Linked DNA regions of Homo sapiens. The protein of the gene in region 2 purifies or fractionates together with the protein of the main gene of each other region. This does not show direct contact. Each region holds a gene or a part of one and is shown on either strand. Other genes may lie near its edges. The genes, in order: HDLBP and ZCCHC7.

What was found.
Region 1: the proteins of ZCCHC7 (region 2) and HDLBP purify together in Homo sapiens (affinity purification with mass spectrometry, with the first as the bait; one large-scale study listed by BioGRID). This does not show direct contact.

What each region holds. Positions count from the first base shown.
Region 1 is NC_000002.12:241,232,115-241,235,930, forward strand, and holds part of HDLBP (vigilin), read right to left. Parts: intron 3,481-3,816; coding exon 3,376-3,480; intron 3,142-3,375; coding exon 3,007-3,141; intron 1,850-3,006; coding exon 1,706-1,849; intron 1-1,705. UniProt on the Homo sapiens protein: Appears to play a role in cell sterol metabolism. It may function to protect cells from over-accumulation of cholesterol.
Region 2 is NC_000009.12:37,298,543-37,302,358, forward strand, and holds part of ZCCHC7 (zinc finger CCHC domain-containing protein 7), read left to right. Parts: intron 1-3,645; coding exon 3,646-3,689; intron 3,690-3,816.

The DNA.
Region 1 (3,816 bases), on a different chromosome or scaffold from region 2:
CAGAGCTGACAGCCTCAGGCACCACCCGCGTGCTGCCAGGTACAGAACCTCAAGATCGGAAGCACAGCTCACAGGAAAAAGCTGCCTGTGAAGAAATGACTGCTCCACCCCACTTGGCTCATGGTGTATTAGATGGAATAGTCTAATTGCTAAACAATGACTTTTTTTTTTTTTTTTTAAAGACAGAGTCTCACTCTGTCGCCCAGGCTGGAGTGCAATGGCATGATCTCAGCTCACTGCAGCCTCCGCCTCCTGCGTTCAAGCGATTCTCACGTCTCAGTCTCCCGAGTAGCTGGGATTACAGGTGCACGCGACCACGCCTGGCTAATTTTCATATTTTTAGTAGAGACAGGCTTTCGCCATGTTGGTCAGGTTGGCCTTGAACTCCTGACCTCAGGGGATCCACCCGCCTCGGCCTCCAAAAGTGTTGGGATTACAGGCGTGAGCCACTGTGACTCACCTATAATGACTTTTAAGATTGATAATTATATAGAATAGTAGAGGGAAATAAAAGGCAATAAGGGTGAGGGGCTTAAAAGAGCTAAACTCTTGGGCTGGGAGCGGTGGCTCACAGCTGTAGTCCCAGCTACTTGGGAGGTTGAGGCACGAGAATCACTTCAACCCGGGAGGCAGAGGTTACAGTGAGCCGAGATCGCGCCACTGCACTCCACCTGGGGCAACAAGACAAAGACTATCTCTCTCAAAAAAAAGAACTAAACTCTCAAGATCAAGACTAAAAATTAAAAAATGTATGTGGGGAGGGAAGAGGACGTGGGAGCTGGAGGAGGCAGGGTGCAGGAGGGCCCTCCTGGCCTGGCTGGTGTGTGTGTGACTCAAAGATCCAAAAGGGAACAAGAAGCTGGGGAGGAAGAAGGGGAAGGGGAAGGGGAAGCAGCGGAAAACCCTGGGCGGCACATCCACAGTGGGAGCGAGGGGCGTGGAGGGGCTCTGCTGCCAGGGGGTTTGCTGTTTCTGGAAACCAGCACAACTGTGGCCACCAAGGCTTGCTAGTCTCCCACTGTGGGCAAAGCTGTGCTGGACACGCCTAGGAAGCAGACACCCCAGCAGGATGCCAGAGCCAGGAAAGACCAAGCCTGGGAAGTGTGTGCAAGAGGGGGTGTTGGGTGAGGCTGCCCTGCATGCCAGGTGGCAGGGCCCAGAGAGGGGATGGGGCTGCCTTTCATTTTGTTCTGAGTGAAGCAGGAGGCCATGAGGGCCAGTGGCAGGGGGGTGGCACTGCAATTTGGAGGAAGTAACAACAAGAGTTTACTAAGGACCATCTGGCAAGCACAACGGTGTTTGCAGCTGGGGCTGCAGAGAAATGTCCACCTGACCCCAAGAGGCCCAGGTGACAGGTGAATGAGAGCCCTTGGGAGCCTCAGAGAGGCCCGGGTGACAGGTGAATGAGCTACACCTGGAGGCGCCACTGATCAAGGACCCAGCTGGAGCTCCTGCTCATTTTCTGGAAGGAGACGCAGGAGAAAATGCTCCAGGCCCCAGATGATACATAGTGCCAGAGACCTCACCCATCTGGCAAGTACCGAGACACAGCCCAAACCTCAAGCCAGAATTAGGTCCTGAGAGACTTGCCACTCTCAACTTGGCCCTCGAACCCCCATCTAGGCACATCTGGTTACTGCTCCCAAGTCACAGGAAAGGTCAACAAGCACCTCTGCCCCCGACACGCTCCAACCGAGGCTCTCACCTGGTTCCCATCGTCCTTATCAGGAAACTGGATGTTCACGTCATGCTCCAACCGGATTTGGGTAATTACTGCCCCCTTTCTCCCGATAATCTTGGGATGGTATTTGGGGTCTACAGTGACACTCAGCTTAAAACTCCTTAAAGCCTACAAATGAAAGGAGCAAGAATGAGGCAAAGATTGAGCTGATCCACCCTGTGACTCCATTCCCCTTCCACCCTGGTCATAGGACACTGGAGATGCTGCAGTGTTCTGTAACCCGTGGTCCGGAATGGTCCGCCATCTCTCTGGTCCGACCTCTGCCACCTTCCATTATCTGCTAATAATGAGAACCAGGGAACTTGGCTGCTCCACAAGGAGGTCTATAAATCCTTCAAAAGAGGGCTTGGGACCACTTGCGAGGATCGTGCTCAGGAACTGACAGAGCTAGGCAGTGAGTCACGAGCTTGGGGCCCCGCTCTCCTCATTTGTCAAACAGGGATCTGATGGATACGCACAGAAATGCTCTGGATCTTTTTAGGACTGGGGCAGATGCAGACCAAGAAGAGGGGGCAGCCACAGCCCCTGAACACCCATGGCCAAAGGCTACAGGTATGACCTGGCTGCAGGAGACAACCCAGAGTCCACGCAGGGGTACACTGACACCATGTGAGGTTCACGAGCTCCACCCCATTCACCAGACTCGACGTGCTCACGGGAGGAGTGGAAAGCCAACCCCCTTAGCAAACCAGCACCCCAGCACAGTCTGCTCCAAGTTCCAGAACCCCTGCTCCTGTCTGCAGCACTCTGCTCACACAATCCTCCAAATGTCAGCCCTGCCAGAGGCTGGGCGTCTGCAGCGCTCCGCTCATACAATCCTTCAAACGTCAGCCTTGCCAGAGGTTGGGGGGGTTTCATCCCTGCTTACCAGGAAGTCATTCGCCCTTTGACCACCCTGTGCTAGAGGTTAGTGGGGGTCCCCGATGCTCGTCCTCACTGCATAGCACATGCTTGGGGGCCTCTCGCAACCTTGACCTTTCTTGTAGGTCTGAGGTACCACTCTGATTTGGTTTTGAGAGAAACTGCAAATTTACACGGAAGTCCAACTTTGTCACTTTTTTATGAAAAAGAGAAAGGTGCCATGCTCTTGGCTAGTTCCACAGCAAGACCCCTGGATGCTGACTGCGTCCTGGCACTGCCTGCATCTCACCTCCAGCCAGATGTCGCTGGGATGCTGGGATCCTGAAGAACTTCCCTAGATTCTGACATGTGCCCAAAGCTGAGCACCATGGCTCTGGGCAGTGCCCCGGCCACCTCCTGCTCACCCGGTCCTCCTGCTCGGCCTGTAGCTCCTTCACACGCTCCAGCAGTCCAGCCTTGGCCCGGTCCAAATTTGCAGCGAGGCCCGTGATGGCGATGATGTCAGACTGCAGCTCAGGTGCCGGGACATGTATGTTCACCTACGTGAAGAGGGGGCTGACTTGACGTTCAGGACCCCAGAGAACAGGAAAGAGTCCATTGGCCCTGGGACCCAGAAGTGGTGAGAGGGAAGGCCACCCGCCGTGAAGGGAAGTCAGTGCCCAGTCCGAGCAGGAGGAGGCAGAGTCAACAGGAAGTTGAGAAAGGACACTGGCACTCGGGAGAGGATGCGACAGGCCACTCCTGTGACATGGCCTCCCGGGAAAGGGGTCTACCTCAAACTCATCCATCATCTTGCGGATCCCACTTCCTTTCTGCCCAATAACGTAACGGTGAAGGTCAAAGGGCACCTCTACTTCAATGGTGACAGGAACCAATGCCTGCAGGGAGGATGGTCATGGTTAGGCCGTGGGAGCTGAGAGCAGAGTGACGTTGTAAGCTCAGCAATGGGGCTCCACGAAACACAAGGCAAACAGCCCTATGACAACAGCAATGTGCCCCACCCGACAATGCCACCAGGACCTTTAACTCAATAGAAAAGAATAGGAAAAGATTTGCATTAGGCTAATGCTGGCAGACAGAAATTCCAGACCCTTCATCCCAAGCCTACCCTCCTGAATTACAGCAGCCCCTTCAGGCCCACGTAGGAGGAGAGGCCCTGACTCCTGGCACATCCTCGGGGTCATGACGGCTTTGACCGATGCCCATGAGGTGCC
Region 2 (3,816 bases):
ATAATTCCATATATGTGAGGTCCTGGAAGGGGCAAAACAAATCTATCGTGAGAGAAGGCAAATCAGTGGTTGCCTCAGGTGGGGGATTGACTGCACATGTGCACAAAGTAACATTTTGGGATGATGGAAATGTTCTACATTTGATTTTTATAGTGATTACCCAGGTGTATACATTTGCCAAATTGAATCCTACTGTATTTTTACATAGGTACATTTTATTACATGTAAGTTACACCTCATTAGTTTCCTTTACGGCCCTGCCTTCTGTAACTTTTTTCCTTCTCTCCCTAAAATTGAGGTATTATCCATTCTTCTGAATTTACCATAGCATTTGTTTGGCCTTCTCTTACTCTTTCTTTCTCCTTTCGTTTGTCACCTTGTCCTCTACTAAGGCTATAAGCTCTTTACATCTTTCTTTACCCTCTAGCACCTTGCTCATTTAATCTTCCAATAGATGTTTGTTAAACGGAGTTGATTTCATACAAAGAAAGAATTACCAGCTACTGCTTTGATCACGGCTCTGAAATTTGAACAGAATCACAATCCCAGTTATCAGCAAGAACAACCCTATAAAAGCAGCTATGGGTTGATGACAGGCATTCTTAGGGCAGTCTTAATTTTACAATTCAGGGCAGTCCCATTTAACATTCTATGGCATTGGGTGGTGGACACATGGAAGATGAGTGTTCCTGGGCCGTATGGAAAGTCCTCTTTAAGGCGAATTACCTTGTGCTAGTTGCAAAGGTCTGGAAGATTTAATTCAGGTAAATTACACAACGTGACAATGTATATAATTCCAGTAATGAGAGAAAATTAGAATCAGAAATTCAGTACTAGAAGGTGCCACCATGGATGCCATTTATTCTAACCCATTGTCATACAGACCCAGAGATCTTAAGTATCCTGCCCAACACCACACAGCAAATTAGCGGCACAGTTAACTCTAGAAGCCAGATTTCTATCAAGTACCATACCCAGAATTTAACAAGTTGGAGAATTTGCTGTTTGTGGAAGTTCTGAGGAGTTGCCCTAGACAAAGCTTTCCTTGGGGTGAGATTTTGAGTTTAGACACAATAGGTAAAGATCAAGGGCAGGAAGCTGCTGTCATTACTAGGTTCAAATCAAAACTGGAACCTTGGAGCCATGGCAGGGACAAGAATTGCCTTATGTGTTCCTGGTGATGTCTTTGCTTCATATACCACTTGAGAAATACTGACTTGATCTATTGTTGAAACTTAGTTTGTATACTTGTTGATGAATTTTCTATAGTAAGAATATGAATATGCTATAACTTTTTGAGGAGTTGTTAGTACAGTTGACCCTTAAACAACACGGGTTCGAACTTCATAGGTCTGCCTATAAGCAGCTTTTTCTCAACCAAAAATGGATTGAAAATACAGTTTTCATAGGCTGTGAAACCCACGTATATAGAGGGCCAACTTTTTATATGTGCAGGTTCCACAGGGCTGACGGGAACTTGAGTGTGCAAGGATTTGGTTCTACCAGGGTAGTCTTGGAACCAATCCCTCATATATACTGAGGGACAACTGTACACAAGAATATTTTTGAATCCCACAGGATTGTTAAAACAATCTGAATAGAGTCGATCTCCCTCCTTCAAACCTTCCTTTTTTACTGTTTTCTGTTTATGTGTAAATTTGGAGAGTGGTAACAGTTGCCATTTTGCATTTCATTGGTTTTATATTTCATTTTTTAAGAACAATTTTAAGTCAGTCTTATAGTTAACATAATTTCAAGTGGTCATTTTGAATTTTAATGATGAAAGACATTGAGATACAAAAAGCAGCTTTGAAAGTTGTAGCAAAGCATGCTTCATACATGGATCCTTTGAATGAAAGAATAATAGCATGGATGGTTGATGAAGGAATAGAAGCTGCTGCTATTTAATGTATTCTTCACTCTCAGTACATGGATACAGCCTCCAAATGTTACAAAGAAAATAATCATCAGCACAGCATCTCTGCATACCTGTGGATTGGTCTTTTTGTAAAGCAGCCTCATGGTTTTCTTAGAAAAGTTTTTTATTTAAAAATATATCTCTAGACACTTACTCCTGGTAGGCCTGGGAAAATGTAGATTACTTCATGTCTCTTCAAAAGCCTTTCAAAGAAACAAGTCAAGCTTGATTTGTGTTTTTGAGATAGAGGAAAGTAGTAAGGTAGGAGGACAGAGGAAATCTTAGCTTTAAAGGGAGAAAAAGATCTTTCAGTCCTTTTGTCAACACTTTAGTTTCTGCATTAGTCATAGGTCCCTTCCCCCTTGGCCATGGGTGGACCAAAGGAATAGCAGCCATTTGCACGTTTGTGAAAGGACAGTGGAAAGAAAAGAAAATAGCTGATACAAGAAAATGTGGGAGATTATTTCCCCCACTAGGTTTTTACAGTTGTATTTTTAGATTAATCAGTGGTTTCTGGATATTTGGCCTCCTTTTTTTTCTTTTATTTTGCTGTTTTTGATGTTATAAAATACAGTGCTAAGAACCTAACCCTATTAGTGAGATATTATTCAGAGTCTAATTTTTTTATTGTTATAATGAAAGTCATGTAGAATGCAAAGCTAGTGGACACAGTTAATACTCATATTTGGTAGAAATACTTTTCCTCTACCAAGCTGAGTTCAAATTGTGGGCCTGCAAGTTAACTGATACTGGACAGGTTAACTGGAGAAAAGATAAGGTTTATTCACACTTGAAGGAGCACTCAATATCAGTAACTCTGAAGAAGAGTTTAGAGGGTTATAGAAGTAAGGGGTTATGCCTCTTGCTGTGGCACACCACAGATGCCAGCACTTTGGGAGGCTGAAGTGGGTGGATCTCTTGAGCTCAGGAGTTTGAGACCAGCCTGGGTGACATGGTGAAACCCTGTCTCTACCAAAAAAATTATAAAAATTAGCCTAGCGTGGTGGCAAGTTCCTGTAGTCCCAGCTACTCAGGAGGCTGATGTGGGAGGATTGCTTAAGCCTGGGAGGCGGAGGTTGCAGTGAGCCAAAATGGTACCACTGTACTCCAGTCTTGGCAACAGAGCAAGACCCTGTCTCCAAAAAAAACAAGAAGTAAGGGGCTATATACCAACTTAACAAGAGGGGGTAGCTTAGGGAGTCAAAGGACAGAAAGATCTCATTTACACAATTTTTTTGTTATGTCTCAGTGCCCAGTGTCAGTCATCTCCCTCCTGTGGATCCTCCTGGAGGTGTGAGAGGGTTGTGACAGCTGCCTCAGTAAAGCTCTGCTTTAGTCAGATAAAAGAAGTTAAGATTTCATTCTGCATCTGCTGTTGTATTTTTGGGCCCTTCACTGATTTTTTTTTGTTTTAATATTTGTATGTAGTCTGATGCTTTTCAATGTATTTTCACATACCTCATTTTATTCTCACAGGACTTTTTAGGCAGACAGGGAAAATACTATTATCCCATTTCACAGGTCAGAAAACTGAGACTCAGAGAGGTTAAGTATTTGTCCAGGGCCACATAATTAATAACAGAGCCAAAATAGGAATTTCAGGTATTCAACATTTCTCAGTGTACCTTTGGGGTCCAATTTGAGTACTCATAAATTGTGTAATCTATTGTCAATCTATAAGTCCTTTAAAAGTGCCACGGTTAAGTAATAATTTATTTGTTTTGTAGGAGAAGATGGTATAAACTGGTCCATCAGTGACAAAGACATTGAGGTAAAATCAAATTGTTTTTAAAATTCAGAATAATAATTTCCTTTGCTTCATAGTTTATTATGATAACTTTTGGAACATTAATAAGTTTAAGTGGCTTATAAGAAAACATTTGATTTTAGCATATGAG